Linked DNA regions of Homo sapiens: region 2 is reported to be linked to region 1. Evidence: microRNA targets listed by miRTarBase, many of them from high-throughput screens and not tested one by one. Region 1 holds a microRNA gene; the other region holds the end of a gene's coding sequence.
Evidence for each region. The annotated mature microRNA hsa-miR-5100 reads UUCAGAUCCCAGCGGUGCCUCU and lies in region 1 at 2,283-2,304, opposite strand. An mRNA with a match to its seed (bases 2 to 7 or 8) in the 3' UTR can be bound and repressed. Matches are read on the target gene's strand: a 7mer-m8 pairs with bases 2 to 8, a 7mer-A1 pairs with bases 2 to 7 and ends in A, and an 8mer does both.

Region 2: the mRNA of C1QTNF3 is a reported target of hsa-miR-5100. Seed matches in the 3' UTR shown: 7mer-m8 at 417-423, 7mer-A1 at 1,121-1,127 and 7mer-A1 at 1,473-1,479.

What each region holds. Positions count from the first base shown.
Region 1 is chr10:42,995,483-42,999,933 of GRCh38, reverse strand. MIR5100 (microRNA 5100) reads right to left here and starts at 2,371; the gene lies at 2,253-2,371. RefSeq lists an enhancer at 2,004-2,504.
Region 2 is chr5:34,016,746-34,020,940 of GRCh38, reverse strand. C1QTNF3 (C1q and TNF related 3) reads left to right here. Exons shown (of 6, transcript NM_181435.6): 6 at 199-3,083. The coding sequence ends at 358. It overlaps C1QTNF3-AMACR (C1QTNF3-AMACR readthrough (NMD candidate)), which reads left to right. Exons shown (of 9, transcript NR_037951.1): 6 at 199-354. Among named protein-coding and RNA genes, the nearest start is that of AMACR, 11 kb to the right of the region's middle.

The sequences.
Region 1 (4,451 bases):
CAGGAGCCCCGCAGGTGAAGCAGCCTCCCAGGCCCTGTGTCTCCCAGGGACTGCCCTGGCCTGGGCTATGGCAAGTCCCGTATGTCTCCTGGAGACATCAGCTCCCGTCTGGGTGGCCAGGCGGACTCACGGGCATGGGCCAGCACAGGGTGTGGCAAGAGAGATCAGCTGGGAGAGGAGAATTGGGGACTGCAGGCCTTGGTGCCTGCTGACCTCCACCCCTCTGAAGAGAGCCTGGCTCAGGGCTTCTGGACTCAAAGGAGGGCAGGCAGGACTCCCCAGTTGTCCTGGGCCTGTGTGAAGGTCCCCCTGGAGCTCCTAGGGGTCACCAATGCATAGCCAGGCAGGTGGTGCACTGTGGCAGCTCCAGGGAGAAAGATGCACTGGACCATGAGGCCAGGCAGCAGGGCTGTGATCAGCAGGAGGGTAGGAGAACAGAGGGGCTCAGAGGTGGACGTCCTATGTGGTTGGCTTGCAGGATCCGGGGACACTTCTGACGCTAGGGGACATGCTGGGGCTGTGGACAAGGATCATGGAGTGGGCAGCCCTTGAAGGCATCTGAGACATGCTGATGACACGACGGGCGTTGGGGGCTGACAGTGCAAGGCAGCCATAGGCCTGTGGCCAGTTCTAGGGCAGCTGTCACGGACAGGCACAGATGTCCTGGCTGGGGTCCTGAGAAGCTCCCGAGAAAGGTTTCCATGGGCCTCAGAAGCCAGGCTGTGTCCCACAGCACAGATGCAGGCCCTGGGCATCTTACCCTCCTGGGTGACCCTGGAGGGGCCAATCACAGGTGGGGCCTGCAGAGACACTAAGGCTTCAAGGCCAGGGCCTCGCGGGCTGCATCCTCTGTATCCCCAGGGCTCCCTGGAGAGTCCTGCTTTCCCACTTCCAGGAGACACATCTGCTAGGCAGGTGTGGTGTTCTGGGCCAGGAGCCTCCCACTTGGCATGTGGTCCTGGGCTCTGGGCTCTTCACCTACAGGTCAAGCCTGGGACCTGTTGTCCATGGCCAGGACTGGCACAAATCTGATCCTTTTGTGGAGGTCAGCAGTCTGTCTTCCAGCTTTTCTGCCACCAGCTAATGCTTATCTGGTATGAGCTGTGCCCGGCATTTGCTGGGCTCTTTACACCCTGAGGAGACTGCTCTCACACCCCTGTTCTACAGGGGGAAACTGAGGCTCACTGGGGGTTTGTGGCATGCCCCCGGCCGCAGCAGCTTGAGTGTCTTAGTCAGGTTTACAACCCACTGGCTGGATCCACAGCTCAGGGAGCCTTTCTCCACAGTGACATAAACTGTGGGGTCACTCCCTCAGCTCATGGCTATGGACCTCACGGCCCCTAAGTGCTGGCTGAGGAAGTACGACCATCCCACCCCTCCATGAGGGTCCCTGCCTGGAAGCACAGGGAGCACAGATGCTTCCTGGGTGCAGCAGCCCTGAGCCATGCCCCACTCTCGGGCTCTGCATTAGTTAAGGTTTTCCCGAGAAACAGAAGTGATAGGATGCGTGTGTGTTTATTAAAGGAGATGGATGGCAAGGAATTGCTTCATGAGATAGTGGAGTCTGAGAAGTCCCCAGATCTGCTGCTGGCCAGCTGGAGCCCCAGGAGAGCTGATGGAGTTTGTCCCAGTCTGAAGGCCAGGGGCTTGACATGCATGAAGAGCCTGTACTTCGGTTCAGGTCTGAAGCCTGGAAAAGACCAAGCTCCCAGCTTAAGGCAGCCAGGCAGAATGAATTATCTCCTACTTGGCCTTTGTGTTCAGCTTAGGTCTGCGACAGGTTGGATGGGTCTACCCACACTGGGAGGCTGTCTGCTTTGCAGTCCATGGATTCAAGTGTTCATCTCACCCAGAGCCCCCCTGACACACACCCAGCATAATGTCTGGCCAAACATCCAGGCCCCCTGTGTGCCAGTCAAGCGGACGTGTGAAATTAACCAATGTGGGCTCTGAGATTCCAGGCCCAGGAGACCCACATCCTCCAGCTTCTGCTGATGTGCCCTGGGGTCCCTGGGGACAGGCTCTGGCTTGGTGCCTGGATGGGGTTGGGGCCACTCAGCAGCATGTCACCTGGGCACGTCCTTCACACCCCAAGCCACCCGCCTCCTCTGTAAGTGGGCTGTACTGCCTTAACTGATGACCCCTGCAGCTGCTCTGAAAACTGGTCCCAGTGGAAGTGACATGAAGACCACCTCCTCAGGTGTGTCCCTGTTAGCTAAGACCAGATGAGGATGCTGGGACTGGGCAGGGTCAGCTGACTGCCCAAGGTCCTGTGGCCAGTTAGAGGCACCGCTGGGATCTGAACCCATGTGGTCTAGCTCCAGAAGCCACGCTCCTACCCCCAGGCCATCCCACTGCCAGCTCCTCATGGCTGTTTCTGAAGGTGATGGAGGGACTCACCAGCCCAGGTTCCCAGGACTGTCTGGGCTTTGTGGCAGGAAACTGGGGCAGAGCAGGGGCCTCCGGGTGGGAAGGATGACCCTTTCCCAGCAAGACAGGACCTCGTCTCTTGCTAGAGCCCAGCTGGGGTTAGGTTTGGGATAGTGTGCTCAGGACATGTGATCAGAGGGAAGCTGGAAAGCTCTGAAGGGGGAAGGCTCCCCACACATGGATAATCCCTCATACAGAGACCCCAGACTCAGCATAGGATCCCAGACAGAATGGCCTTCACACGCTGCCTGGCTCCTTCCAAAATCAATACAGGCTCTTAAAATGCTGAAATAGTTCTGGTGCATGCTGAGATTTGTTGGACTGAGTTTAAAATCCTGGTGTGTGTGTGTGTGTGTGTGTGCGTGCGTGCGTGCACTGAGAGTGCTGGTGAGCTTGGAGAGGTTCCAGTCTTAAAAAGGACCCTGGCCCCGAGAGGCCACCTGACCACCAAGAACAGCCCGTGTAATTCTGGAAGGTGGATTTGGGATTCCTGCTTTCATGCCCTGAGGGCCCCTGAGGGCTCAGGACTGAGGGACAGAGGCTGCTGGGATGAAAAAGGTGCATCCCTGGCTGGGAAACTCCAGGCTTGGGTGGGCTTCTGCTGAGACCCAGCTCCATGCAGAGGTTCATACTGCCTGTGCCTCAGGGACCAGCATATCCACCTCCTGTCATCCAGTTGAGGCCTCAGGGCTCCCAGGGAAAGGAGCAGGGTCCCCCCAAGCCCAGGATACCAGGACCAGCCGGGCTCCAGCCCCACCCCTCCTTGTGCATTTCTGCCCTCCCAGGCTTCCCTGCGCCTTCATTACCAACCTTGTCCTCAGCAACCACGGCTTGTAAACCATATTCCACGTGCTTGGGTTTTCCCTCTGGACACACAGGCTCTGAGAAGATGGTTTAGGCAGTTCCCAACTTCACGATCACAGCAGGTCCTGCCAACCCACCCTGGACCGTCCCTAGCCTGGACCAGGGACACCCCACCCATGGGAGGATGGGTTGGAGCTGTCCTGGAGCTAGGCTGGACTGGGCCCTGCAGCCTCCAGGCAAATGCCTTTTCCTTTACAAAGCTGGTAAAGTGCTCTAGGTCACTCACCCTTGGAGGATCTCTCTGCTGCTTCATCATCTGGGAGTCGCTGTCTCCATTCCCAGGGATTCTCTGTGTCTTTAAGTCTAAGTTGGGGATTGGCCCGGCCACACCAACTTTCATCCCATCCGTATTTACACTCCACGGCTTTCCACACCCTCTTGCCTTCTACCTTTCTATACTTCACTGTGACCTCTGTAAGCAACGTCTGACACAAGACTTTGCTTTTGTGTCCAATCTGACAGTCTCTGTTCAGTACATTCATGGTTACTGTTTTCTCTGGATCTAGGAAAATTTATTTCCACCACTTATTTTTTTGTCCTGGCTTCTGGACTTCCATTTTCTCTCTCCTTTCCTAACTTCTATTAGAAATACTCAATTTTCTGTATTCTTTTTCTTCTTCCCAATTGCTTGGAAGTTATGGTAGGCTGATCATGACTCCCACAGATACACCCATGTCTAATCTGGAACCTGTGAATATCACCTGTATTGCAAAAGATGTGATCGAGTGAGGGACCTTGAGAGGAGGAGCATGTCCTGGGTCATCCAGGGCCCTAAATACCATGTATCCTATAAAAGAGAAGCAGAGGGAGTTTTGACCCAGACCTGCACAGGGGACAAGGCCCTGTAAACAGAGAGCAGGCATTGGAGAGACATGGCCCAGCTCAGGAATGATGCCAGCTGTGGGAAGCTGGAAGAGGCCAGGAAGGCTCCTCCCCCGAGCCTCAGAGGGAGCATGGCTCTGCCTCCTCCACACCTTGATTTCTGTCTCCTGGCCTCCAGGATTGCAAGAGAATACATTTTTGTTGTTATAAACTACCAGACTTGTGGTAACTTCTTATAGCAATCACAGGAAACTAACACAGAGATCATATTTTCTATTTCTTTAATAAATTGTCCTAAAGTTTTAATACCTGTGCTAGAAAGGCATGCTCCTTGT
Region 2 (4,195 bases), not on the chromosome of region 1:
GAGCAGGGAGGGGTTTTGTGAGAGTGTTACTAGCCAGCTTTAGAAGTGGTACATAGGTCATTTCTGCTCACAGGCTGTTTAGAGAACTTAGCCGCAGGATTATACCTGTGGGAAGGAGAGAAGGGGAGCACAGACTTTGGTGAAGAGCTGGTTGTTCATGGCAAAAACTAAGTAGTTTGTTCCTCTTTTTCTTTCCAGCTATGAAATGAAGGGCAAATCAGATACATCCAGCAATCATGCTGTGCTGAAGCTAGCCAAAGGGGATGAGGTTTGGCTGCGAATGGGCAATGGCGCTCTCCATGGGGACCACCAACGCTTCTCCACCTTTGCAGGATTCCTGCTCTTTGAAACTAAGTAAATATATGACTAGAATAGCTCCACTTTGGGGAAGACTTGTAGCTGAGCTGATTTGTTACGATCTGAGGAACATTAAAGTTGAGGGTTTTACATTGCTGTATTCAAAAAATTATTGGTTGCAATGTTGTTCACGCTACAGGTACACCAATAATGTTGGACAATTCAGGGGCTCAGAAGAATCAACCACAAAATAGTCTTCTCAGATGACCTTGACTAATATACTCAGCATCTTTATCACTCTTTCCTTGGCACCTAAAAGATAATTCTCCTCTGACGCAGGTTGGAAATATTTTTTTCTATCACAGAAGTCATTTGCAAAGAATTTTGACTACTCTGCTTTTAATTTAATACCAGTTTTCAGGAACCCCTGAAGTTTTAAGTTCATTATTCTTTATAACATTTGAGAGAATCGGATGTAGTGATATGACAGGGCTGGGGCAAGAACAGGGGCACTAGCTGCCTTATTAGCTAATTTAGTGCCCTCCGTGTTCAGCTTAGCCTTTGACCCTTTCCTTTTGATCCACAAAATACATTAAAACTCTGAATTCACATACAATGCTATTTTAAAGTCAATAGATTTTAGCTATAAAGTGCTTGACCAGTAATGTGGTTGTAATTTTGTGTATGTTCCCCCACATCGCCCCCAACTTCGGATGTGGGGTCAGGAGGTTGAGGTTCACTATTAACAAATGTCATAAATATCTCATAGAGGTACAGTGCCAATAGATATTCAAATGTTGCATGTTGACCAGAGGGATTTTATATCTGAAGAACATACACTATTAATAAATACCTTAGAGAAAGATTTTGACCTGGCTTTAGATAAAACTGTGGCAAGAAAAATGTAATGAGCAATATATGGAAATAAACACACCTTTGTTAAAGATACTTTCTAAACTTGTGTTTAATAAACTTTAATAGTCATAGAATTGTAAATCACTATGGTTAACAGAAAGTGAAAATATTTTCATGCAGATGATGTGAACAGCCATGTGAATAGGTGACTTGGGCACACAGCAGGGTCATATGACTTCAGAAAACTTCGCTTTTCAGTTATTCCATTGTTATAATGTCAACCCTTTAAGACATTGATGTTTAGAGGGCTCACAAATAAAATCTGAATACCTGTAAGGAAAGAGGTTTTTTATCACATACCTTAAGTCTTTGTAATGTTCATGCTTAAATTCTAAGTTTTCACCTTAGTGACACACAAGGTTTGGTTGTAGGCAACAAGTCCCAGGTGTGTGGGAAATTGATTCACAACAGAGATGGGAAAAGGTGCAGATAATTTCCAATGCCTTCACAATTTACCCATGACCAGAAATATACTTGGAAGACTGATTTCACAAGTGTCCCAAAACTGAGATGCTAAAAAGGAAACAGTAGGTAGGTGTCATAGGAAATTTACATGTACCATCTAATAAACAAACTTGCAAATTCTAAATCTTTTTTTTTTTTGAGACAGTTTCACGCTGCTGCCCAGGCTGGAGTGCAGTGGCATGATCTCAGCTCACCGCAGCCTCCGCCTCCTGGGTTCAAGTGACTCTCCTACCTCAGCCTCCTGAGTAGCTGGGACTACAGGCGCCCACCACCAGGACCAGCTAATTTTTAATGTTTCTAATAGAGATGGGGTTTCACCATGTTGACCAGGCCGGTCTGGAACTCCTGACCTCAGGTGATCTGCCTGCCTCGGTCTTCCAAAGTGCTGGGATTACAGGCGTGAGCCCCCGCACCCAGCCGCAAATTCTAAATCTTAAAACAACTCTGCAAACGAAGCACTTGAGTTTCTGCTTGCTTCAGGGATGTAATATGGTGTAGAACTGTTTCACATAATGATCAGCCTTGGTAATTTTCCAGTGTAGAAAACATTATATTTGACCCTTGGACAACAAAGAGATTATATTGAAGGAATTTTATTGATTGTATCATGAATAAAAGCTGAAGTCAAAATTAAAATGTAAAAAAATAATTCAGAGGATGGAATATGCAAATGTAAACTCCAAATGATGTGGCTGGAATTCATAAACATTTACTTTATGCAAGATACTGTGCTATTCCAGGCACTCCTATGGCATTTAAAGTACAATTCTTACCTTCCCTAATTTTTCAACCTAGTAGAGGACAATAGGCTAAAGGGAATAAGTACATGGATAACAAAACATAAAGTAGAATGTTTTTACAGCCATAGAAGGCAAAGGGCTAGGAATTCACAGGAGAGAGAAACAGTATCTAGCTGAGAGCATAAGAAAAGCTTGTGGAAAAGATAATATCTGATGGCCAGAGACAATTTCTTGCTTTGGTATGTTTGAAGTGTTATATTTAAATATATATATTTTTATTTAAAAAACTCACTATAGAAAATTTATAAAATTCCCCAAAATATTTAGTATAAAATTAATCATCCCATCAAATATTAAATAATATTACTATTTTAAAGTGTTTATTTCAGTCTTTTCCTGCATGTATTTATGGCTTTTATTTTTAAATATAGTAATAAAATAATTTGAAATTAGCTTTTTATATATTTTTGTATCTTGCTCTAATGGGTTGGACTAAACATATTAAGAACACTCTCAAATGCTACTAAGGACAATTTGAAAACATAATTTTAATGACTGCATAATTTATTTAACTTTCCTGTTTTGGAAAATATTATTTTTTTTTTATTACAAATAATATGTCATGAGCATTCTCTTTTTAAAAAAATAAACTATGTGTGCATATAATTATTTCCTTTGATTAAATTTCCAGAAGTGAGATTATTTGGTAAAAAAGCCTAGACATTTTAAAAGCTGTTAATAATGTCACATTTAAAAAAAAAAAATAGCTTAAACTTATGTAAGGAGGGACTTTATTCAAAAGGATTATTGCCATAAGGGGAAGGTGACTACGACAATAGGGAAAAGGCTCTGAGATCTATGAGATCTGTAGCTCAGAGGACAAACACAAATAGGCTTTCTTTTATGGAGAGAAGTAAACAAGAACTGGGTGCAGGGGATGGGATGGGTGACAGGTATGATGGGACATTGACTAGGGAACACTTTTTCCTGAGTTCAGCCAGTTCCCTGAAGGAGGGGCCTCTAACTTTAACATGGCTCCATGTTCCAGTGCCCAAAGTGGGCCAAAGTTTAGGTACCTGGGCAAAGGGGAAAAGCCTTACTAAACTTTGGTCAAGTCAAGTTAGTTTGCATTTTGCCCAGATCGAACAGTTCAACGAACACTTCAGCTATTTATAAGACAAAAAAAGTGGGAATTTAGAGGGTCTGTGCCTGGTCATGTTCTATGTAAACAAGAAAGTTTTAAGTCATAAGAGAAAGCATGATTGTTTGCAGCAAGCCATTTCCCAGAACAAAAGGGAAGGAGGATTTTTAAAGTTCCTTTCCAAAAACACGGGGCTCAGGTAAGGTTCAACATTGCCAATAAATATTGTCAAGTTGTCCTCCAAGAAATCTGCACTTCTACTAGCAATATTTGAGAATGCTAGAAATGCTGCAGATAGGTAGGATTGTGATTCATGAGGATGGGAGACAAAGTGTTCTATGCAATGAAAAACAGTTTGGAAAAAAAAAGAGGCAGGGAAATTGCAAGCTCTTTGTATGCAACAGCATAGTGTGCAGTCAGCCTGGAATGAATTGCTGATACAGCGTTAAAGCAGGTACGGCTAGAAAGGGAGACAGAAGGAATGCCATAGGCTTTCAATGCCAAGGTGAGACCTACACTTAAATTAGCAGCTAAAGAATCACTGTTAAATTGTGATCAATATTTTGATGTAACCAGGGCTAAGTTTTAGGAAAATCAATCTGCTGAAAATGGGAGGCTTTGAGGTGCTCCCATTTTT